Homo sapiens: one gene and its partners. The protein of the gene in region 1 purifies or fractionates together with the protein of each later gene. This does not show direct contact. Each region holds a gene or a part of one and is shown in the gene's direction. Other genes may lie near its edges.

What was found.
Region 2: the proteins of CELA3A (region 1) and HELZ purify together in Homo sapiens (affinity purification with mass spectrometry; 2 studies listed by BioGRID and IntAct, with this or other methods). This does not show direct contact.
Region 3: the proteins of CELA3A (region 1) and PPIP5K2 purify together in Homo sapiens (affinity purification with mass spectrometry; 2 studies listed by BioGRID and IntAct, with this or other methods). This does not show direct contact.
Region 4: the proteins of CELA3A (region 1) and POTEF purify together in Homo sapiens (affinity purification with mass spectrometry; 2 studies listed by BioGRID and IntAct, with this or other methods). This does not show direct contact.

Annotation. Positions count from the first base shown.
Region 1 is NC_000001.11:21,997,180-22,004,693, forward strand, and holds the start of CELA3A (chymotrypsin-like elastase family member 3A preproprotein), read left to right. Parts: upstream 1-4,477; 5' UTR 4,478-4,495; coding exon 4,496-4,538; intron 4,539-5,823; coding exon 5,824-5,909; intron 5,910-7,514. UniProt on the Homo sapiens protein: Efficient protease with alanine specificity but only little elastolytic activity.
Region 2 is NC_000017.11:67,069,928-67,074,217, reverse strand, and holds the end of HELZ (probable helicase with zinc finger domain), read left to right. Parts: 3' UTR 1-3,774; downstream 3,775-4,290. UniProt on the Homo sapiens protein: May act as a helicase that plays a role in RNA metabolism in multiple tissues and organs within the developing embryo.
Region 3 is NC_000005.10:103,207,294-103,213,329, forward strand, and holds the end of PPIP5K2 (inositol hexakisphosphate and diphosphoinositol-pentakisphosphate kinase 2), read left to right. Parts: 3' UTR 1-5,506; downstream 5,507-6,036. UniProt on the Homo sapiens protein: Bifunctional inositol kinase that acts in concert with the IP6K kinases IP6K1, IP6K2 and IP6K3 to synthesize the diphosphate group-containing inositol pyrophosphates diphosphoinositol pentakisphosphate, PP-InsP5, and bis-diphosphoinositol tetrakisphosphate, (PP)2-InsP4.
Region 4 is NC_000002.12:130,119,217-130,126,253, reverse strand, and holds part of POTEF (POTE ankyrin domain family member F), read left to right. Parts: intron 1-4,955; exon of another isoform or gene 4,956-5,645; 5' UTR 5,646-5,738; coding exon 5,739-6,259; intron 6,260-7,037.

The DNA of each region.
Region 1 (7,514 bases):
TGAGACCCCATCTCTACTAAAAATACAAAAAATTAGCCGGGCGTGGTGGTACATGCCTGTAACCCCAGCTACTTGGGAGGCTGAGGCAGGAGAATTGCTTTAACCTGGGAGGCAGAGGTTGCAGTGAGCTGAGATCGTGCCATTGCACTCCAGTCTGGCACGACTCATCTCAAAAAAAAAAAAAAGAGCAAGACAAGAGCAAGACTCGTCTCAAAAAAAAAAAAAAATGCTGGGCGTGGTGGCTCACGACTGTAATCCCACACTTTGGGAGGCCAAGGTGGGTGGATCACCTGAGGTTAGGAGTTTGAGAACAGCCTGGCCAATGTGGTGAAACCCTGCCTCTACTAAAAATCCAAAAATTAGCCTGGTGTGGTGGCAGGTGCCTGTAATCCCAGCTACCTGGGAGGCTGAGGGCAGAAGAATCACTTGAACCCGGGAGGCGAAGGTGGCAGTGAGCCGAGATCTAGCCATTGCACTCCAGCCTGGGGGACAAGAGTGAGACTTCGTCTCCAAAAAAAAAAAAAAATTATGATCTTGCTCATACAGGCAGGAAACAAATTTAGTAGGACTATAACATTTCTATACCAGGCTGGTTTATGAGTTACAACAATATAGCTAGTTAAAATTTGTCTTCTTTTCCATACACTTTGTTTTATTTTCCTTTCCAATTTGTGTATTTAACATTCTATCTTAGATAATGTGATAGTCATGAAGTCTTTGTGTGAGAGAGAAAAGAAGGAAGTTAATCTATAATGAAGATTGACTGTTGAGAGGGAAACAGTCTGCCCTGTCACCCTTTAGTCATTTACAACATTTTATAAAACAATGTAGTTAAGGAAAAGCTAATCGATAACACAAACAAAAGTTATGCCTTCCTGTTTACATTACTCAGGTCCCATAATCTCATTCCCTTAAGTCTAAGGTATTTTAAAGTTCCAACAGCTTAGATTTTGAATATCTTATTTTCACAGAAACTACAGGGCAACAAGGCACCAGAGTCCCGGACTTAGGACCACTGTGTGTGATTCACCGTGAACACTGGCATATTAAAGGCTCTGAGAAGTCCTGTAGGAAAGGACAATTTGAACTTTGTTTGAGCTCATATTTTCCAATCCCATCTGACCTTTAGTTCTTCACTGAGTGCCCACTGGGTTATATTCTGGGAGCCGAGGCCACAGCAGTGAACAAAGCACACAAAACCCCCCGCCCCATGGGGGCTCCGTTCTAGTGGGTCCATTTATCATCAAACATCTATTAATATCTCTAGAATGTGCCCATCAGGACACCATCCAGATGCTGCTGCGCTTTTCCAGGCCACACAGAGGGGACACCCTCCAGGTGCATCCTGCATGAATATCAGGCTCAACCGTGCTTTCAGGGTAGGAAGCGGAGGGCATTTGAAGAGTCCTTTCCCTTCCTTCATTCATTTGTTGTCTCCTTGAATAAATGCTGTTGAAAACCTACCATGTGCCAGGCTCCCTTCTAGGTACTGGGAATCGGAAGATGAATAAGATAAAGTTTTGATCCTCAAAGAGCTTCCTGTGGGGTGGGAACTGGAAAGAATGGAACTCCCCCAGTCCCGGGAAAAAGGCTCACCAGCTTCCCCTCCGTCCCCTCGCCAGCTTCCCCGCCCTCCCTCTCCTTCCCAGACTGACCTCCTAATTTTGCATACTCTCCGACCTAACCTCCACCTCCCATTCAGGAAATGGCTTGCTTTGCTTCAGGCTGAGGCCTAAAGTAGATCTAACCCCTCCATCTTCCCTCTTGCGGGGCAGGTGTTGGAAGGAGGTTCATCTTCAGGGATTTCACTCAAGCTACTCCTAGGCCAGAAAACCCTCGGAGAGTTAATCAGCCGTGCAACTGCCAGTGTCAGTCCATAAGGCCTTGAAGTAACCAATCAGGCAGGGGTTGTGGTGGGACAGTTGGCGTCAGGGAGCCCCTCTCCCTGGGGACCCAGCAGAGCCGACAGAGAGGCTGGGACTTGCTCAAGGTCACCTGGGTAAGAAGCCGGGAAGGCTTCTCGGTTGAAGTTGGGGGAGGGAGAGTGGACCCTCCCGTGTCCGTGGGCTACCCTTCACCAGGCCAAGCAGTAACAAACCAGGGAAACTTGACCAAGTCCTGGCTTTTCTCTGGGTCATCATTTTCTTCTTCTTTTTTTTTTTTTTGTGACAGAGTTTTGCTCTTATTGCCCAGGCTGGAGTGCAATGGCACGATCTCGGCTCACCGCAAACTCCGCCTCCCAGGTTCAAGCGATTTTCCTGCCTCACCCTCCCTAGTAGCTGGGATTACAGGCATGTGCCACCACACCCGGCTAATTTTGTGTTTTTAGTAGAGATGGGGTTTCTCCATGTTGGTCAGGCTGGTCTCGAACTCCTGACCTCAGGTGGTCCACCCTCCTCGGCCTCCCAAAGTGTTGGGATTACAGGCGTGAGCCACTGTGCCTGGCCCATCATTTTCCCTTCTGTCAAATAAAAGTGGTTGGATTAGATCGCGTTTTAGGCCCTGTGGGTTTCAGACACTCTACAGTGGAATCTGGGCTTATCGGACCTAACCCTATCTCTCCCCAGCCACCTCCTGGGCCCCTCCCTCCTTCTTCCCTGGCGTAGGGTCTGGGGAATGGCTCAGAGCTTTCAAGCTGAGCAAACATGTCCGGGCACATAGGGAACAGAGGGTAGGGGAGGGCATGGCTATTTTTATCACAGTATAAAGGATTTTCACAGCTGCTTCCCTTGTGTCCACACACGTTCCACGAACCCAGGCTATCAGAGTGGCTAGGCTGTGATTGGAGGGGGTTCACTCCTAAAACAAAACCTGCTCAGCAAGATGCCTGACTTTCCCCCAGGAGGGATCTATTTAAATTGCCCCGTCTGGCCGGATGCAGTGGCTCATGCCTGTAATCCCAGTACTTTGGGAGGTCGAGGTGGGTGGATCACCAGAGGTCAGGAGTTGGAGACCAGCCTGGCCAACATGGTGAAACCCCGTCTCTACTAAAAATACAAAAATTAGCCGGGCGTGGTGGTGCGCGCCTGTAATCCCAGCTACTCAGGAGGCTGAGGCAGGAGAATCGCTTGAACCCGTGAGGTGGAGGTTGCAGTGAGCCAAGATCGCACCACTATAAAAAAAAAAATCTATTGTGTGAATATGCTACACATATTGACCTATGAACCTTGATGGACGTGGGAGTTGTTTCTAGGTCTTTGCTGTTGAGTTTTGAGAACAGGGGCTGCGGCAAACAATCTCATCCACACCTCCTGGAGCACATGCCTAAGGTTTTCTCACGGTATAGACCTAGGAGGGAAACGGCTGGATCACCTGTGAATTCCACTTTCGGGGTCGCCTGCTCTTTGACCTCATCTCCCACCCCTCTCTACTTTGACTACCAAGCTCCTGTCACACTGGCCTCCCCTTCCTTGAACAAGTCAAGCCCATTGCAGCCTCCAGAACTTCGCACCTGCTGTCGCCTCCCTTCAGAGCGCGTTTCTTTCAGGGATTCCCGTGGCTGGCTTTTACTTATCCTCAGGACTCCATCAGATATGACCTCCTCAGCCCAAATGTCACTTTCTCTGTCCCCCCCATCTAAATGACTTACTCCCATTCCTACCCCAATCACCTATGTTTCATTTTCTTTTCTTCTCTGTTTTTTTTTTTGGTTTTGTTTTTGTTTTTTGAGACAGTGTTGCTCTGTGGCCCAGGCTGGAGTGCAGTGGCATGATCTCGGCTCTCTGTAGCCTCTGCCTCTCCGCTCCCAGGTTCAAGTGATTCTCCTCCCTCAGCCTCCCAGTAGCTAGGATTACAGGTGCTGGGATTACAGGTGCTCACCACCACACCTGGCTAATTTTTGTAGTTTTAGTAGAGATAGGGTTTCATCATGTCTCGAACTTCTGACCTCAAGTGATCCTCCCACCTTGGCCTCCCAAAGCGCTGGGATCACAGGTGTGAGCCACCGCTCCTGGCCTAGACTCAAACTCTAGAAGGGCTGAGACCATGCATTTTTCACAGCTGTATCCCCTAGAACAGTGCCTGATACATAGAGAAAAAGTGCTCAACAAGAATTTTTTTGTGGAGGTGGGTACTAATATAAATCTCATGTTAGAGAGCAGAAAACTGAGACTCAGAGAGGTTAAGCCATGCGCCCAAAGTCGCAGAGCTTGAAGGTGGCAGAACCAGGATTGAACCGTGGTCTGCCCGGTTCCAGTGCCCCTGTTCTTTCCGAAAGAGGAGGTCTTGTCCTGACATGAGCTTTTCTTCCTGAACTCTTGTTATCAGTTGGCCACTCCACACCACCTGTCCAGCCACCTGTTGGAGGGAACGCTAGGTCCTCCCTTTGGCTGTCACTTGTCCATCTGCAGCAGGCGAGGACTGTGGCCTTGGACCATGGGAGACCTGGAGTTCCACCACCTGTTCTGGGAGTGGGGCCCAATCAGCCCCCCTGCTTACCTTCTGCCCTATATTAGAGCCCCAGGCTCTGTGCCCTTTTCCTATCATCACAAAACTCATGATGCTCCGGCTGCTCAGTTCCCTCCTCCTTGTGGCCGTTGGTAAGACCCCAACCTGTCTGTGTGCTCCCTGGGCTGCCCTGGACTAGGAATCCTTGAAATCTACCACTCGCTCTGAGTCCCATGACATGCTATGCCTGGTTCCACAGGAGGGGGTCTCAGCTTGTACCCGGGGGCATGACTGTAGGGGCTTTCAGCTTATGATGGAGCAGGAGAGTGGAGGGGAAGCTGTGGATGGTGAAAGACCCCCAAAGGGCTGTGGTGGAAGTCCTTGATGGGGGCAGTAAACAAAGTCAAACGGTTAAGAGTTTGGACTGTGTGGTTGGACTTCTTGGGTTGGAATTTCCACAGTTCTACTTACCACTCCAACTCTCCTCTCACTCCCCCTACCTGGCTCCATATTCTATGCTCTGGCCTTTTCCTGGTCTCTCTGCCATATTACATTCCAGCTCAGGGCCACCTCTTCCAAACAGCCTCCCTTGACTGACAATAATGGTAACAGATAACATTGATTGAGTGCTTACTATGCCAGGCAGAATGTTTAGGGATTTTCTTATACTTTCTCATGTAATTCTCACAACAGCCTCAGGAGATCAGTACTATCATTATCCCCCATTTTACTGACCCTCAAGGAAGTAAAGTAGCTTATCATAGAACAAAAGGCAGAGCTGCACTTAATGTTTTTATTTTTTGCTTTTTTTTTGTAGAGATGGGGTCTTGCTTTGTTGCCCAGACTGGTCTCAAAATCCTGGCCTCAAGCAATCCTACCACCTTAGCCTCCTGAGTAGCTGAGATTATAGGCACATGCCACCATACCTGGCTACTTTATTTTATTGTACTTTATTTTTCTAGAGATGAGGTCTTGCTATGTTGCCCAGGCTGGTCTCAAACTCCCGGGCTCAAGCGATCCTCCCGCCTCGGCCTCTCAGAGCACTAGGATTACAGGTGTGAACCACCACACACAGCCCAGAGCTGCACTTTGAACCCAGGAAGTCCTTCTTTAAAGCCTCCACTCTGTATGACAATAGCTCTCACTTTTTGAGGGCTCATCGAGGGCCAGGCATTGTTCTAAGTGTATCAAGCTCTTCAATCCTCCCAATGAAGGAGGCCACATTTGAATCTCTATCCCTGGACTCCTGGGATTCTGGAAAGCCCTGCTCTAGTTTAAATGTTCACTGTTCATATGTGGTTACTGAGGTCCAGAGGGCGAAAGGGGCTTGCATGGGGTCACACAGCCAGTTGAAGGCATGGCTTGGACTGGGACCCTGGCCTCCTCTTTGCTTTTGGGGACCCTCCAGCTGATTGACAGCTCTCCTCTCCCCTCTAGCCTCAGGCTATGGCCCACCTTCCTCTCACTCTTCCAGCCGCGTTGTCCATGGTGAGGATGCGGTCCCCTACAGCTGGCCCTGGCAGGTAAGAGCAATAGCAGCTGCCCTCATTCCCACCGTGGGCTCTGGACCCTAAGCTCTAATGGCGTGGCATCCAGCCTTGACACCATTGCTCCCTTTGCAATGTCCACTTCAGCTTCCAAAGACCAGGCAGCCCTTGGACCATCTACTTCACGGGGAGGTTTTGCCCGTTTCATCTGTAACCCTCACTGGGCTATTTGCAACTTAAAATTGGAATCGGGGGTGAAGGAAATGCTAAACTCAAGGAGTTGGCACACTGATGGTGGAATTTCAGGCACTGTGTTGACGAAGTGAGATTTTGAGAGACTCATTTCTAGATTCCTAGGATGATACTACAGGGCTTTGAGGTCTGAAAGCAATAAGGGAGTGAGGGATCTTGTAAGGCCAGTGGAGGGAAGCTCAGAAGGCTGGACTTGATGTGCTGTGGCTATTTAAATTTAATTAAATTAGGCCAGGTGCGGTGGCTCACGCCTGTAATCCCAGCTACTCAGGAGGCTGAGGCAGGAGAATCCCTTGAACCTGGGAGTTGGAGGTTGCAGTGAGACAAGATTGCACCACTGCACTCCAGCCCCGGGCAACAGAGTGAGACTCTGTCTCAAAAAAAAAAATTAAATTAAATTATTATTACTATTATTATTGAGACAGAGTTTCACTCTTGTTGCCCAGGCTGAAGTGCAATGGCACAATCTTGGCTCACTGCAAACTCTGCCACCCGGGTTCAAGCAATTCTCCTACCTCACCTCCCAAGTAGCTGGGATTACAGGCACGCGCCACCAAGCCCGGCTAATTTTGTATTTTTAGTAGAGACAGGGTTTCACTGTGTTGGCCAGGCCAGTCTGGAGCTTCTGACCTCAGGTGATCCACCTGCCTCGGCCTCTCAAAGTGCTGGGATTACAGGTGTGAGTCACTGCACCCAGCTGAAATTTACTTACATTAAAAATGTTAACAATTCATTTCCTCAGTGCTTTTTTCTTTTCTTTTCTTTTCTTTGTTTTTTTTTTTTTTGAGACAGGGTCTTGCTGTGTTGCCCAGGCTGGAGTGCAGTGGTGTGATCTCAGCTTACTGCAGCCTTGACCTCCTAGGTCCAAGCAATAATCCCACCTCAGCCTCCTGTGTAGCTAGGACTACAGGCATGCGCCACCATGCCCAGCTAATTTTTATACATTGTTGTAGAGATGGGGTCTCACTATGTTGCCCAGGCTTGCCTCGAACTTCTGAGCTCCAGTGATCCTCCTGTCTTGACCTCCCACAGTGCTGGGATTATAGGCGTAAGCCACCATGCTTGGCCTGCTTGCCACATTTCAAATGTTCAATAGTCACATGTGGCTAGTGGCTACCATATTGGACAGCAAAGATATAGAACATTCCCATGATTATGGGAAGTTTTATCGGAGAGGGTCAGCAGGCTTATTCTGTAAATGGCCAGAGAGTGAATATTTTAGGTTATTTGATGGTTTGGATAGTAATGACTTGACTGTGCCATGGTAGCATGAAAGCAGACACAAACAATACAGAAATGAATGTGACTATTTCCAGGACATCTTTATTACAAAAACAGACCAGAAGCCTGATGTGCCCCACTGTCCACAGTTTGCTAACCCTGGTCTAG
Region 2 (4,290 bases), on another chromosome or scaffold:
TATGATTTACCGTACATTATTTCTTGCTCACCATCCCCTTAACATATGAAAATCCTTAATTTCTACTGCCGCGCTATATGTCTTCCTGAATCTCAAGGTATAAATGTCTTAATGGATCTGATTTGTCTCCACTCTTTGCCATCTGATCCACATTCAAACCGCCTAGAAATTAGAAAGAATAGGTAATGTTCTATCTACGATTTCTTGTTCAAAATATCACGTAGTGGTGCCAATCACTTACAAAGACACCATCTCCATCTTGAAAGAGTAACTGGCATGTTAGTCTTGAAAATGCTCATTATGATATGCTCCTCACATTTCCCATCTGCTTGAGGATGGACATTTATTAGCTGAGACTTTAAAGCTGCTAAATTCACACTTTCTACTTTCATACCTTTTTAATCAGTAATGTCAAGACCATTGTTGCAAGGAGTGAATCTTACTAAACACATCCTGTTATTACTTTAAACTAGAATATGAGATTCAAGAGATTTAAAAACAATTTTAATGTAACGTTTAAAATTTTTGAACCAATTGAGAATGTCTACTTTGGAGTGAAGTTTAAGGAAACAGTCACCAGAGTTTCTAAAAATTTTTTGGAGGGAGGTACCTAATAGAAGAATCTAGACTTAGAAATGTGAACTGTGGTTAAATACCAAACCCAGTTCCGCAGTGGTCGTCTAAAGCGTCTAAAACTGGAGTGTTAAGAAAACCCAGAGACATTCATATAGTTTCAGTTATCAGAGTATTAGACCAGACTTTATTTGCAATTTGTTCAACAGAGAGATTTTATTTTGATACAGATATTAAGCATAAAGCATAGTAAGTTTTATATAATTCTATGAGTTCATTAAACAATATTATGAAATTTTCATTATGTTCGTGGGGAGTCTTTTTAACTGTTTCTACCTCATATATGAGGTCTCTTCTGTATTTTACTTTGCATACTAGCATGTGATTGCCTGCCTTAGAACTATGTAGAGGAGGGGAAATCGATATTACCTTTTAAGAAATTTTTGATTTTATGAAGTGTTTTCATTAATACTTTTTTAATGTTTGAGAAGTAAAGGGGAAAGGGTGGCAAATTACATAGGTTGCAACACAGAGTAGAAGTCACATAGTACTATTTACAGATCTGTCCTGTTTTAAGATTTGAGAATTGTGAACAGGATGGAGCAATGGTTCTCAAACTTCAGCCAGTATCAGAATTGCCTCGAGGTCTTGTTAAAATTCAGATAGCTGGACCCACCCCCAGCATTTCTGATTTTGGTCTGGAGCCTGATGATTTGCATTTCCAACAAGTTTCCAGGCGATGCTGATGCTGCCAGTCCAGGAACCACACTTTGAAAATCACTGGGTCTGATTCTCGCAGTTTGAAAGTCTCAGAGACCTTCAGAGTCTGAACGTCTTTTCAACCATGTATTTATTTACTCAGTGTAAAAAACTGATCTCTGGAGACATTTTTATAAATCTGGTGCCATGACTGGAACATTTGTGGAGAAAGGTCTCCATGGAGCGACAGGCCCTTTGGATTGGCCACCACCCCTCCTCACTCTCACCCCTGCTGGGGTCTGCACTGCTCTTCCGCAGTAGGGTGAAGGAGCTCTTTGGTTTTAGGGTGAGTTTGCTTTTGTGTACGCTGCTGCCTGGACATCAGTCTGGAAGCTGTGCATTTGTTTGGTGTGCTTAGGGTCAATCTTGATCCACATGCATGGAAGTGAGAATCCTGGAAAGAAGCCATCAGAATGCCATGAGAGTGCACCTAGCATGTATCGAGGCACTAAGTGCAGGAGTCCCTGTCCTAAGATGGCAGTGACATGGAGCATCGAAAACCACAGATAATCCTTAAATAATAAAATAATAGTTTTGTTTTTTTTTCTTCGGGGCAGAGTCTCGCTCTGTTGCCCTGGCTGGAGTACAGTGGCATGATCTCGGCTCACTGCAACCTCCGCCTCCCGGCTTCAAGTGATTCTCCTGCCTCAGCCTCCCAAGTAGTTGGGACTACAGGCATGCGCCACCACGCCCAGCTAATTTTTGTATTTTTTAGTAGAGACGGGGTTTCACCGTGTTGGCCAGGATGGTCTCCATCTCTTGACCTCATGATCTGCCCGCCTCGGGCTCCCAAAGTGTTGGGATTACAGGCATGAGCCACTGCGCCTGGCAAATGTTTTAGTTTTTATGGTTATTATTATTTTTTTTTTTTGTGGGGGAGGGTGGTGAGGGCAAAGGATTTGTTTTTCAAATTATGTGTTTCTCAGGTTAACAAAGTTATTTTAGATTCTCTGCCATGCCAGCAGGTGTTAGAGAGAGCCTGAAGTGTTACATATGGCAGAAAATAAATGTCTCTGATTACTTTGCTACCTTTAAAAAAATCTATATGTGTTTGCAAAACAGCCTAGGGGGATCTACCACCTACACAGCATGAATTATTCATAAGTCATAGGTGCACATGTATGAGCAAGTTATTTTTGAGAAAGAAACTGCCTATAATATAATAAACCTGTCAGGTCTTTGGGTATTGTTTAATTTGTGTGTTGTTGCTGTTTTATCTGGACTGCATCTTGGGGGGTACTGGGCTCTGCTTCTGGTTTTTAGTTTGCCTTTGAATTTACTGAGCTACTAGAAAGACAAAAAAAAGCTATTTTTATGGTAATAGAATACAGAATGACTTAGGTGTAAAAGTACACGTGAAGACCATCGTAGAATATACAGCTTTGGAGTTTTCTTAAGACACAGTCCTTCCTACTGAAAAGGCTTGCTCACCTTTGGAGAGGATTGTTTATATTTTCAGCCTGGGTTCCTTTATGCAGTCCCAACTTAGAGGGGAGCTTCGGTTTATTTACACTTTGCTTTGCACGATAACTTGTATGCGAAGACCTCTTTATATCTTTCAGTAGGTCAGAGGGCTCTTTGTCCTGGTTGAAGTCCCAAAGTGTCAGTGCAGCTGAGAATGTTTCTCAGCCTCCCCCTTTACAGAGGAAGGGTCCTGGATTTTCATAAATCCAGACCATGCCTGCTTCCTATAAATCCATGTATATGACATTGTACTGTATCTGATTTCTGTGCCAGTCATCTGACCTGATTCTTTAAACCCCATAAAGGTACTGGCTATATGTAGTAGTTGTATCCTAGGTAAATATGGTGATTAAAATACTTCTCTTCTAAATTATAAAGATAATGAGTTTTGCATTTTATTAAAGGGTCCTGTTATTAGTGACACAGGATTTTTTTTTAATGCTTCATACATATAGTTCTTATCTAAACTTGTTCAGCTAACTTCATAGATCAGTTACTTAGCAAATTCATACTGAGTCTTATTTTGGGAAGTCTTCCTGAGGGAAGCTGTACAAAACTGAGGTGGTCAGGTTCATCTCTTCAAAGTACCAGTTATACAGCCATCTAAATAGGCATAACTTATGGCAAAATTATAACAATTTTTTTTCTTTGCAGTAAATGATACCTCATCTAAGAGGCTCTAATACCTAAAGAGTTTATCCTTAAAAGTAAAAGTGACTTTGTACCATAAAATAACCCCAAAGCCACTCTCTAGGGTTTTTATTTTCTTCTTTCTTTGTCTTTATCTTTTCTAACTTAGTTTTGGAATTACGTTAGCTACTTTGGTTCCATAGAACAAGTTTTCAACTTGGGGTCTACAGTTCCTACAGTGTGCTCATTGTCTCAGTGAAGTTCTTTTGTTTTCAAAGATTCATGGTAACAAAATGTATTTTACTGCTACAACTAAAATGTATTTATAATAAAATGCCTTTTTAATAATTTGGAGATGTGTTTATTATGTGTGAACTATAATTCTCTGCTTCCTTCTGCCCTTAAGGTCAAAGGTCTGACTGAAGTTAAGCACAGCCCTTTGATTTTATTCCTAATAGTAAATGGTAAAACGAATGTAACTGAGAACTCAGTGTGAATTTGTAAAGTTCTAACTCTACTTTCCAGACATTTGTGACTTGGCTTAAATCCCCTAACTTCAGCAGTAATGCTTTTAAGACTTAAACGTGTTACCTGAAAGTTTAAAGATCTCCAGTGGTCAGTGAGAAAATAAGCCCTTTTCAAACAGTCATTCAACAAATATCTTACAAATTTAAGAAAATTATCCTGAATTACTCTTAACAAGTCACTTAGTTGTTAATGCGGCCCAGAATTTATTTGAGAACTCATAAACCTAGTTTGTAGTGATATATTATGTAGGTATAATCATGCACTTCACAGTAATGCGTGCCAAACATTAATTCAACAATCCAAAAAAAAAAAAAAATGCTGGTTGTGCAGAAAATT
Region 3 (6,036 bases), on another chromosome or scaffold:
GGCAGTCAAAAATGTCTCCAGACATTAGTAAATGTCTTTTGTGAGGGAAGAATTGACCCTAGTTAAGAACCACTGCCCTAAAGCACATGATTCTGTGGAAAAGAAGGATATATGACCAAAATCATCATTTTGGATAGTGAGGGCATGGATAATGGATACATAATCAGCAATGTATGCTGTATACTACACTTGCATTATGTTATTCACATTTGCTATAGTTCACTTGTTGTGCTAATGGTTTTTTCCTTCACTATGATTTTGAATTATATTTAATTTTAAAGTCTATATATATATATATATAGATCCTATCTGTTGACTCCTTGCTGTGAACAATATCCAATTAGTGTATTTTTTCCTCTACTGCACAGTTTTGGTTGATTATTTTTTCCTTTTCATTTCTTTTCTGAACTTTGTTAGCTTATGTTGCATTTCCTTTGGTTGTTTTGCTATGGTGTTTCTGATCAACTACATTTCTTTATGAACTCTATTTCCTTAAGTTCTTTGAGTTATGACAGTATATTTGGTCACATTTTTCATGTGCTCAGCTGATTCATTCTTTCCTGTTGAGTGGTTTTTATCTGCTAATTGTTTCTGCTTGTTCCATTTCTCCTTTTCTTGAAGTGTTTGTGCATGAACACTGTGCAGGTTTATTTTCAAGTATTACTTACCTTTATATGAGATAAATTTCTTTCTGGCTCATCTATTTGATACAATTTCTTTTTTGTTTGTTTTTGTTTTGTTTTTGTTGTTTTTTAAAATGCAATTTCATATGTTAGGTAGGTTGGCTTTTCTTTTTCTTTTTCTTTTTTTTTTTGAGATGGAGTTTTACTCTTGTTGCCTAGGCTGGAGTGCAGTGGCATGATCTCAGCTCACTGCAACCTCCACCTTCCAGTTTCAAATGATTCTCCTCCCTCAGCCTCCAGAGTAGCTGGGATTACAGGCGCCCGCCACCACGCCTGGCTAATTTTTGCATTTTTAGTAGAGACTGGGTTTCACCATGTTGGCCAGGCTGGTCTCGAACTCCTGACCTCATGATCTTCCTGCCTCAGCCTCCCAAAATGCTGGAATTACAGGCATGAGCCATCATGCCCGGCCGTAGGTTGGCATTTTAAGCTCACACAATCCTACCAAGGTGACAGTGAATCTCCTTATGACAGGATTGTGGGTCTGAGAGAGCTGTTGTAGCCTTTTACTCTCTCCAGTCAACAAAGATTGGCAACTACAGGGTTACCACCTTTGGAGTCTCTTTCCTCCTGTCTGCCACGTCTACAGACTACTGCTTGTCAATGTGATATGCATGTATTTTCTTCTTCAGCTTTGCCCCTCCTGCCACTGTACCAGACAATATCCAGGAAATCCCCTACTACTGACACTCATCCCATTTCCATTGTTTTAGAGAAGGAACTAGTTGTTGTTGTTTTTTTTTCCCTGTCTCAGATTATGTCATCTATTTTGGAGTATTTTGGTCTAATGACTTTGGCTGCGATATGGAGCTATCTGACCTTTACTGCACCTGGCAGCTCTATCTCCTATTTTGGGGTTGAGGTTAAAGTGTCTTCTAGTTTTGTTGAAGATAGTTTATGTTTCTCTTCATATTTGATGATAATTTTTTAAATTAAGACCTAATTTCTCCTTCATTTTCAAACTGGATATCATTTCTTTTGTGGTTAATATTCTTTGACAAGAAGGAAGAGGAGGAGGAAGAAGAACAAAAGAAGCCTGCCTCTCTTTAGACTGCCCATCTCAATTATATTTTAAAAATGAAGTTAATATCTGTCCTGCTAACAGTAGTGTTGTCAGAATCAAATGAAATAATATTTGGTAAACTATAAAGTGAAGACCAAATTTGAAGGACTATTTGTTTTTGTTGTAATAGAGTTGTATATAGTCCAGATGTCAACCAGGCCTCTTCAGCATTTTTATAGTCAAAGATGTACAAGATAGCTCCTAATGCTCTTTTATGGCTGCTCCTGTTGCCAGGGCAACAGCCTGCCTAGTAACAATCTAACAGACACCCCCCAAAAACCAAAAAATAAAGGTTATTCTAGCATCTTCTCCTTTTAAAAATCTTTAAAATAAGAGAATTCAGTTCTTCCCAAAGCAGTGTTTAAAAAAAAAAAGTATTTAAATAAAATCAAGGATACCATCCCACCCACCTATCTTACATTTTGTGTGGTATGAGTGGCACCATTGTGTGACCCAGGTAGGATAGTGGATGTACAGTTTAGATACCCATTTTAAAGCAGTTAGAAAGATGTAACTTGACAAGGAAAGCAGTCTCTTTTGTCATTCTACATTTAGTGCTTCAGGAGTACTTGATATATGGAAGGATTTTTTTAAAAAAAAGGAAAAATGAATATGCCTTCAGAAAGTTTTTTGCTGCTTTTAAAAGCCATAGATTTGTCTTAAGTTAGTCAATGCTGAATAGAAAGCTTGATGATAAAGGTGGGTGGGTGGATGGATGGATGGATGAATGAAGGAAAAATTAGGAGAAAAGAGAAAGCAGAGGAGGGGTGAGACAGAGAACAAAAGAACACAGGCTCTACTGTTAACAAAAAGCAGCATCGCTGATGTGTGGGGAATAAATTGGAAGTCATATCATTACGACTTTTTTTTCATGCCACATAGATATGCTGATTTGTCCAACAATGCCTGTACTCAAAAGTCATGACAATAAAATGAGACCTGGGAGTCCCAAATGTTATTAACTACCACAATTTTATATAACTGATTCTTCACTGGTCATCCAGAAGCCTTTTTGAAAGTCCCACTGCCATACCTGCCTCCTCGGTGAAATAGATGTAAAAGCCACAAAGAGAGAATCAATGAGCCACACTCATATTGGAAGCGAATGGAGTTGACTTCACCAGTGGGAAAAGCAATTACTTTTCAAAGTGAAAACTGATCAATTCACAACTCAAGGAAAGCATGGAGTAATTTCAGAACTCCAGTAAGAAGTGATAAATGTCTAGTTTGGAATCATGTGGCTGAAAATCTTACCATATGCTTTCCACAGGCTGAGCAAGAGGATAGATCATTGAATAGATGCTTTAATTCCATTTTTGACAATGAACCTTGTGCTTCTGAAAATATTTATATTTAACCATGAGGTTATGATGATTTTTTCTCTACACTTTTTGAGAAGCCTCTTCAGAAAAGAGCAAAGTTGTCTGCTCTAATGGATAGAATAAGGAGCTGGGAGAAAGGAGACCTGGGTATTAATCTCAGCTCTACCACTACATGGTAGAGCTATGTAGTGGTAGACTATCTGGGAGACTCTAGAATCTTTACCATTCCCTCTACTATTCCTAGCTCCCTTTTCTTTCATAGTCAACAAGTGCTTTTTGAACAATTATTGAGGTAAATAACATACCCTAAAAGTTAGTACTGATTCCCATTATCATGCTCTGTTGTTCCCTGGATGCTCTTTTGAGGAATTTACTTGGTTAATACAGTTAATAGTATAATACTTATAATAACAATTTTGAGAATTATCAGCATGAGACAATTTATTTGCATAATAGCTTTTTGTTATTATCCAGAATACATTTAGTTCTGGATTTTGTTTGATATTGTGAATGCAAACTATTTTTTTGTGTTAGCCTAAATAAAATGAAATACAGTTATGGAAATATTTCTGCTGCAAGAAAAGAATTACATACAACTAGTATACATATTTAGAGGTGCTGTAGTCTTCTAGACTGTAAAGGCAGATGGCCGTGAGTGGAAATCTGAGTGTATAGGATGTGTTTCGTGTTCCCACTGCATATGCATTATTACCCTTGTCTGAGTGGTTGTTTAAACTGACATCTGTAAAACTAATCTGTAAAGTGAGATCTGGGTTCTGACCTATCTCTTACAGTCCATAATGTTGTGATTCTAAGAATATTTCATTCCTTACTGCTTTCTGCCCTCCATTCTGACCAATGCTGCAACCACAAATAAAAACATTACTTACCCTATGAGAAAGACTAGACCTTATACTCATTTTATCTTAACAGTTTATTATAACTCATTTTGACCACTCCTCCCTCAAAAAAAATTGTCCCTAGAAAACTAGAGTGATCATAGGGATCAGATGACATGTTACTGGGTGAAGCCAGGAAGCTACCATATACATAGAAAAGTTAGTTGCCAAATATGGTGTGGGAATTTGGGAGGAATTTATCTGCTCAAAAACTCTCACCTACTTACTAGATATAGTGTTTGTAATGTTAGCCTTGGAGATTCTACCTTAAAAATATCATTGAGAAAGCTCAGAGAACTCCCAGGTAAACACACAGGTAGCCCCTTCTAAAATGCAAATGCCCTTTGAAGGCCAGCTTTATTAATCTTGCCATTAACCCCATAGTTAATCATATGCATTTCTCACAGTGACCTGAAAACAGGCATTCCTTCTCTAAATGTGTGCTGAATGCTGGTTATAAACCAGTTACTACACTAAGCCCTGATGATACAAATATGAAAAGTCCTGTTTCCAGGGAATTTACTTTCTAATGAGGAACCAAGTGCTCAAAAGCAGTCATAAAGTTCATGGCAAAATAACCCACATAATTAACTGCTTTGTTACAAAAACTTGGAAATATAGATAAAATATTTATTTTGGAAATATATGTTACAGGTGAAAAGCAAGAATTAAAACTAGTTATCTGAATGTAAAAGGAATCAACGGCTAAATCAAGCTTAAAGTCTTCCTGTCCAAGGGATATGAAAGGTACCTCAACCTTTGGTTTTGGTTTTGGTTTTGGTTTTGTTTTTTTGGTCAACATGAATTATAGCTAGGGGAAGAGATAAACAGGGGGTTAGGTTGTAGATTATATGCATGACAGATTGCTGGAATTGGGCTCCATTCACAAAGGAGGGAGCAGGAAAGGGTTTCTCTTGACTGGACCACAAATATAAAATCTCATGCCCTCTCATTATCTTGATAAGCCCTATAGGTCCATAAAAGAAATAAAATGCCAAAACATACCATGAGGACACTTTCACAATCCAGGGCACACACATGACTCCCGCAATAGGAAACCACACTGAAGACATTCTCACAATTTAAAACAAGTTGTAAACTACAGGAAACAGTTGGCATCCCAGGAGAGTTGTTGCCTGAGGAACTAGATGGTGGTATGTTATTCTGGCATATAGGGAACAGAATAAGACATGAGGGTAGGAAGAGGTTTTTAAAAGCAAAGTTAGGCATTCAATGATGACTTCATAAATGTGCCTGGGCTGGCCTTTAATGGAAGGCTTTAATTTAGGGAACTTAAAGAATTTCATAATATTGGAGTATAAACTGCTGGAAATAAGGATGCTATTTAATAGACTCTCTTAGATTTTTCATAAAATGCTAATAGAATCCCAAAGGAAGTGTGTATTCTAAAATGTTATTGTGTATGTTATAAAAGCTTTGTAAAATAAAGTGATGTTAAGCTACTATTGTAAAGTTAAAAATTTTTTCAGTCATCTGTAATCTCATTACCCAAGTAAAACTGTTTTCATTTTTCCATTATCCCTTTTAGTTGTTTATTTCCATTACCCTTAGGCATGTTAATGTAGTTGCAATCATTGTATTGTGAAAAAATTTGTCTTTCCTAAATTCTTTATATTGGACAATATTTCCTATGTTACAAAATATTTATAAAGTTCATAAATATCACTTTAAAATTTTGGCATTTTTCTAAAAATTTTAAAATTTTTATTAGAGTAATACATACATATAATCTAGAAGGTCAAATGTAATTCACCTATATAACAAACTTGCATTTGTACCCCTGAAACTAAAATAAAAGTTAAAAAAAAAAGGGAAAGAAACTTTGAGCTGAAAAAGTGGCCGCTATAATGATGTGAAATGGCATCTTCAAAATTTTGGTGGTGGTGGTGGTGGGTAACATAATTTATTCCTTAGTGGGAAAGACTTGTTTATCTTCTAACAATGGGAAGCTTGAGAATTAAGTGACATACCAAAGTATGTCAAAGTGCTTTGGTTCCTTGCCTCTTTTTTTCCCTTTACCTATACCCACACCTACCTCAAGTCCCATT
Region 4 (7,037 bases), on another chromosome or scaffold:
TCGGCTCACTGCAACCTCCGCTTCCTGGGTTCAAGCAAGTCTCCTGCCTCAGCCTCCTGAGTAACTGGGATTGCAGGCATGTGCCACCATGCCCAGCTAACTTTGTGTTTTTAATAGAGATGGGTTTTCTCTATGTTGGTCAGGCTGGTCTTGAACTCCCGACTTCAAGTGATCCACCTGTCTCAGCTTCCCAAAGTGCTGGGATTGGAGGTGTGAGCCACCACGCCTGGCTCTCTGCCACCATTTTCAAGAGTATTGTCATCTGCCTGAGCAAACCTGGTTCATCACCACCTCTTTGCAAGAGAAAAAGGAAGTCGGGAGAATTGTGTGTAATTTTTTTTTTTTTTGAGATGAAGTCTCGCTCTTGTCCCCCAGGCTGTAGTACGATGGCCCGATCTTGGCTCACTGCAACCCCTGCCTCCTGGGTGAAAGCAGTTCTCCTGCCTTGGCCCCCTGAGTAGCTGGGATTATAGGTGCCTGCCACCACGCCCGGCTACTTTTTGTATTTTTAGTAGAGATGGGGTTTCACCCTGTTGGCCAGGCTGGCCTAGAACACCTGACCTCAGGTGATCCACCCACCTCGGTCAGCTGTGTGTATTTTAAGGCAAAGATTCACAACCAAAAACAAGGCTTTATTAACTTTTGTATCTAAGAACCTGCAGTGTCGAGCCCTCTTTTATTCCTAGTATTACTACTTTAGGTGTGAACTTTTTATCTTTATTTTACTGATTCCTCTAGAAGTTTATGCATTTTCTTGACTGCTTTAAAGACAATCTATATTGTATCATTTTTCAAGCCCGTAGAAATGTGTAAGGCCTATAATTTGAACACTTGTTATTTTTAAGGTTATGAGCATGTAATATACCGTTGATACATGGAAGAATATGTATAAATACCACTAGATAGGTTATATTGAAGAGATAATATCTAAATTTTTGTCCAGAGTTGATGGGGTGCAGTTTTGTAGGTGTGTTTCTCAATACATTGTGTCCATGTTTTAAAGCATATAGAAATTTGAATACTGTTTAACCTCATATAGTCCTTGTTTATAGGTTTAATATTTCTAAAGACTAAAGACGTCACAGCTCCCTTTAAGATTCAGTAATACTAATAAAATTTGAGATATACAGGGTTAGAGTCCAACAAATTCAAAGGAAAATTGTTGAATTATATAGCCGTAGAGCAGGAATGAAACCCAGGTTCTAAGTTCCAAGGGGGCCATGAGCTACCATACAGGTGCATCAGTGACTGGGCATAGAGGTGGCAAAATTATTTAAGAGAGTGAGCTGTGGATCCTAATTATGTGAACATGAATTTTTGAACTGCATGGTGCCTCAGTTTATCCATCATTACAGTGGGGACAGTAGTAAGTTTTTCTTTTTCTGCTCAGTTGTCTGAATTATTACCCCAGTCTCTCTTGTTGCCACTCTTGATGCCCACATGAGAGGATCTAAGGTAATTTCTGACAACCTGGGACTCCTTAAGGAAAAACAGAAGGTTCCACAAACCCCATTTTAGGAGAAACCTCTGTTTTCCTCATGGAACCCCAAGAACTTTAAGCAGACAGGTCCCTCTCAAAAATCTAAGGCTCTGCTCTGTTTTGCCTTGCGTTGTCTGACCTTTTTGGTTTGGATGGGCATCAGAAATTAGTAGGGGAGAGAGATCTAAAGAAAATTGTGGATATGAAGATGTATTTATTGTAAGAAATGTTATGAAGGAAAGAAATGTTATATGAGAGAGGATCTTATATGGCAAATTGTTGTCCTAAAGTAGAATGACTAATTACAAAAGAGGGAAATACAGGACAGGTCAGATAAATTTAATCATGTTGTAGATAGTCTGTGGAAGTTGTGTTATGATTCATAAAGTGGGAAAGAAAAACTGAACAACTGCTAGATCTTTTCTTGTCTAGAAGTGTTGTGTATGTGATGTATATATAATGGCTCGGCTTAAAAGAAAATGAAAGCTCTTAAATATTTTGTAAGAAAAATAGAAGCTCTAATGCCTTTTATTTCATGTGACTTCAGTAATCTTTGGGAAATAAAGATGGTGTTAAAGTCAGTGGTAAAATAAAAATATCTTCAAAATTTATCCATTTGGTCTAACTTAAGTCAGAGGTTAAGTTTTAGAAGTGCTTTAATGTCATAAATTGATGCTTTGACTTTGGAAAATAGTTTTGTTTACCTGGTTTGGAGCCGTTAGATTTCTAGGTAAGGTCTCCGGACAGGTGGAGTTAGCCATGTCTCCTAGCTATGCTGGAAGGAGTCAGATTTTATCTGCAGTTCTGTCTTGTATCCTAGACTCTGCACCTGGTATGCAATTAAAACTTACTGCTGCTGCTAATCTCTGGGTTCCATTTAAAATCCTTCCATCACATGAATACTATCCCCTGTACTAAATTTTTCCACAATTAAATACTTAGAATCATTTTTGCTGACTTGACCCAACCATTAGTGATATATTTTAAAAATGCTTATAATGTGTCACAATATATTTAGCAAATGTAGGGAATGACATTTTTACTTTCTTCAGCATTTACATAGCATTTATGTAGCAATGCTATCTCAAGTATTTTTAATCATTTAAATGTTAGATAATAGATATGTTTTTTATTCCTTTTTTCTATGTAAATAAATATAATTATGAGATATTTAGTAAATAGTATCAATTGCATATGTCACTTACAGAATATACAATGAAATTAGGATTATTTTTATACACTACATCATATTTACTTGTTGGCTTTCCAATAACTTAGAAATAGTATTCTGGATTAACTGTGTGACTCATGAGAGAGGGAGTTTGTGCAATTATAGTCTTTACAAATTTTTACTAGATTTTTCAAGACTTATGCTAGAACTTTGAGAACAAGGTAATAAATAAGCATATCTGTTAATATCACCTTTGGTCAACTCTTGGCTAGACCCAATGATAATGTAGGAATTAACATAATTTTTCTACTAAAGGTGTTGGATTTGTTCCGAGAGACCACAGTTCAAAGTCATTGACAAAGAAAGTTTAAAAATTGTTAGATTAAAACCTTTTAGTGTGTTTGAAATTGTTTTGTAGAAAAATATCCTGGTTTGCATTGATAGGTTTTTTTTTAAATAACAACTAGACCAAGAGAAAGGGAGAGTAGTGATAAATGTCCATGTTTTCGAGTTGAAAAGTAACAATCAGTGTATTACAACAGATGGATTTGATGTCAAATTACAAATGCTGAGAACGTTATATGTAACTGACTTGCCAGAGTAATTATACAAGGCAAAGAAAGGAAAGGCATCTAAATAGGAAGGGAAGGGGTGAGATTGTCTGTGTTTTAGACTCCACAAAAAACCCATTACAGCTGATAAACACTATATTCAATAAAGTTGAGAGTTACAAAATTAACATTGGCTTCTATACACCAATGACAAACTGTTATCTGAAAAATAAGGTAATTCCATTTATAATAGCAACAAAACAAATATATAAGTAAATCAAAGAGCAAGGAGTAATTTTAATGAAGGATGTGAACGATTTGTATACTGAAAATTATAGCACATTGATGAAAGAAATTGAAAGTGACAAATAGAAAAAGTCCTATATCAATTGAAAAAATTAATATTGTCAAAATTTCAATGCTACTCAAAGCATTCTACAGATTAAATGCAACCGCTGTCAAATTCCAATGTCATTCTTCACAGAAATAGAAAAATTAGTCCTAAAATCTGAATGGAACCACAAAAGATGCTGAAAAACGAAAGCAATCTTTAGCAAAAAGAACAAACCTGGAGGCATCAGACTACCTAATCTTTGACAAAGCAAACAAGAAAATGGGAAAGGACACCCTATTCAACATATGCTGCTGGTATAATTGGCAAGCCACATGCAGAAAAATGAAGCCGTTCTTCAAAGGTTAAATACAGAATTACCACATGACTCAGTAAATTCACTCCTATGTATACACCAAAAATAAATTAAAACAAATGCCTTACACATAAAAGTATTTATAGCAACAAAAAGTAGGAAACAACAGAAATGTCCATGAATTTTGGAGTGGATTAATAAAATGTGGTCTGTCCATAAAATAAAATATTACTTGGCAATGAAAAAGAAAAACATATTAATACATGCTCCAAAAAGGATGAACATTGAAAACATGATAAATGAAAGTAGTAAGTCACACGTAACTATATTATTATGATTCCACTTACATGAAATGTCCAGAATAGGCAAATCCTTCCAGAATAGGCAAATTCTTAGGTAATAGATGGATGATTGCCTAGGGCTGGGAGAGGTTTAAAGGAAGAATGGGGAAAATAGGGAAAGATTGCTAATGGGTGCAAAGTTTCTTTTAAGGAGCATAAAAATGTTCTAAAATCATGGTGATTGTTTAACTAGTTAATACACTTAAAAAACTGAATTTTATACTTTAAATGAGTGAATTAAATAATATATAAATTGTATCTCAATGAACCTGTGAAAAAAGTTAAAAAATATGTGGTATGCATAAACAAAAAGTTCTTCATTTTATTTCCTAGGGTTTTGGGGAAAAGGTGGTGTTTGATTATATGAGTAAGTTCTTTAGAGGTGATTCAGGAGATTTTGGTGCACCCAACACCTGTGCAGTATACACTGTATACACTGCACCGGGGCAGGAGCTGGCTGCAATCCTGTGGCCCCAAATGCCCCCTTGCTGATGGCCTCGTGTTCTGGGTGCGGAGCAAAGAGGAGCAGGTGTTGAAGGCACCTCAGGCAGGCCCTGGGCTCGGTGGGCGTCTTGTGCTCCGCGATTTTGAGGCCATTTGCAGCCAGCTCCGTCAGCCCGAGCTCCCAGCTGCAGCTGCTGCCATGCACAACAGCACCGCCAGGAGTGTCCTGGGGGCTTTTTTCAAAGGAGGCTGTCAGCATCCTCAAGTTCCAGACGCTTAGCCCCAGTCCTCCTTTAAGAGGCTTTTTTTTTTTCACCAGAGGCTTCTCAGTGGCTTGAAAGCTCAGCTGACTCCCACGAAGTTTGCCGGAACTCAAGGCTGTCAGTGACATTCGTGGCGCCAAGACTTAAGCAGGCGCGTTGCATGCATCGGCCAGTGTCTGTGCCACGTGCCCTGACGCCACCTGAGATAAGCACGCCGCACGCGCACGCGCACGCCGCGCGCACACGCCCGGCAGCAGCTTGGCTGGCTTGTAACGGCTTGCACGCGCACGCCGCACGCGCATAACGGTTTGGCCGGCCTGTAACGGCTTGCACGCGCACGCCGCACGCGCGTAACGGCTTGGCTGGCCTGTAATGGCTTGCACGCGCATGCTGCACGCGCTTTAACGGCTTGGCTGGCCTGTAGCGGCTTGGCTTGGCTTTGCGTTCTTGGCTTGGCTTGGCGTTGGTAGCTTGGATTGACGTTTCCTGCTTGGATTGACGTTTTCTCTCTCGTGTTCCTTTGCTGGGCTTGACCTTTTCTCTGCTGGGTTTGGCATTCCCTTGGGTGGGCTGGGTGTTTTCTTGGGGGCGGGGGTTGGCCCTTTCTGGGGTGGGCGTGGGGTCGCCCAGGGGGGGCGTGGGCTTTCCTCGGGTGGGTGTGGGTTTTCCCTGGGTGGGGTGGGCTGGGCTGGAATCCCCTGCTGGGGTTGGCAGGTTTTGGCTGGGATTGACTTTTCTCTTCAAACAGATTGGAAACCCGGAGTTACCTGCTAGTTGGTGAAACTGGTTGGTAGACGCGATCTGTTGGCTACTACTGGCTTCTCCTGGCTGTTAAAAGCAGATGGTGGTTGAGGTTGATTCCATGCCGGCTGCCTCTTCTGTGAAGAAGCCATTTGGTCTCAGGAGCAAGATGGGCAAGTGGTGCTGCCGTTGCTTCCCCTGCTGCAGGGAGAGCGGCAAGAGCAACGTGGGCACTTCTGGAGACCACGACGACTCTGCTATGAAGACACTCAGGAGCAAGATGGGCAAGTGGTGCCGCCACTGCTTCCCCTGCTGCAGGGGGAGTGGCAAGAGCAACGTGGGCGCTTCTGGAGACCACGACGACTCTGCTATGAAGACACTCAGGAACAAGATGGGCAAGTGGTGCTGCCACTGCTTCCCCTGCTGCAGGGGGAGCAGCAAGAGCAAGGTGGGCGCTTGGGGAGACTACGATGACAGTGCCTTCATGGAGCCCAGGTACCACGTCCGTGGAGAAGATCTGGACAAGCTCCACAGAGCTGCCTGGTGGGGTAAAGTCCCCAGAAAGGATCTCATCGTCATGCTCAGGGACACTGACGTGAACAAGCAGGACAAGCAAAAGAGGTAACCAGGCCTGGGCTGGGAGGAGGTGGGACGTGGGGGGATGATGGGGACATACCCTCCTGGCGGGGGAGGAGGGGGACCTGGCTTTCTCGCCTCCGCAGGCCTCACACCACCCTGGATGTGGAAACCTCAGAGAGGTCAGGGTACAGGGCCCTTTATGAACAGCAACACAAAAACAAAACTTTAGCTGATTTCCAATCATAATTTCCCTCATAGAACACTAATAGACTGTTTTAAAGTGATTTAACTTGCAAAATTAATTAAGTCAATGCAGCAGATTATTTTTAATCTACAGATTTTAAAACAATGTTCTATACATTATAGAAAAGTGTATATTGAGAACTAAGAACGAAGCCCCATAACACATCAACTTCAGGGCTAAATATTCTTCAAATAAAATCCAGTATGGATTTTATATCAATGTACAGTATGTAAATATGTTCTTTACTGAGGAACCTTAGAAGGAAACTGAAATGGGAAGATGGTTCCTGTGCTTGAACAGGAAGATTGAATTTTCTTAAGATGTGAGCTTTTTGGCTGGGCGCGGTGGCTCACGCCTGTAATCCCAGCACTTTGGGAGGCGGGCGGATCATGAGGTCAGGAGATTGAGACCATCCTGGCTAACACGGTGAAACCCTGTCTCTACTAAAAAATATAAAAAAAATTAGCCGGGTGCGGTGGTAGACGCCTGTAGTCCCGGCTACTCAGGAGGCTGAGGCAGGAGAATGGCGTGAACCCGGGAGGTGGAGCTTGCAGTGAGCCGAGATAGTGCCACTGC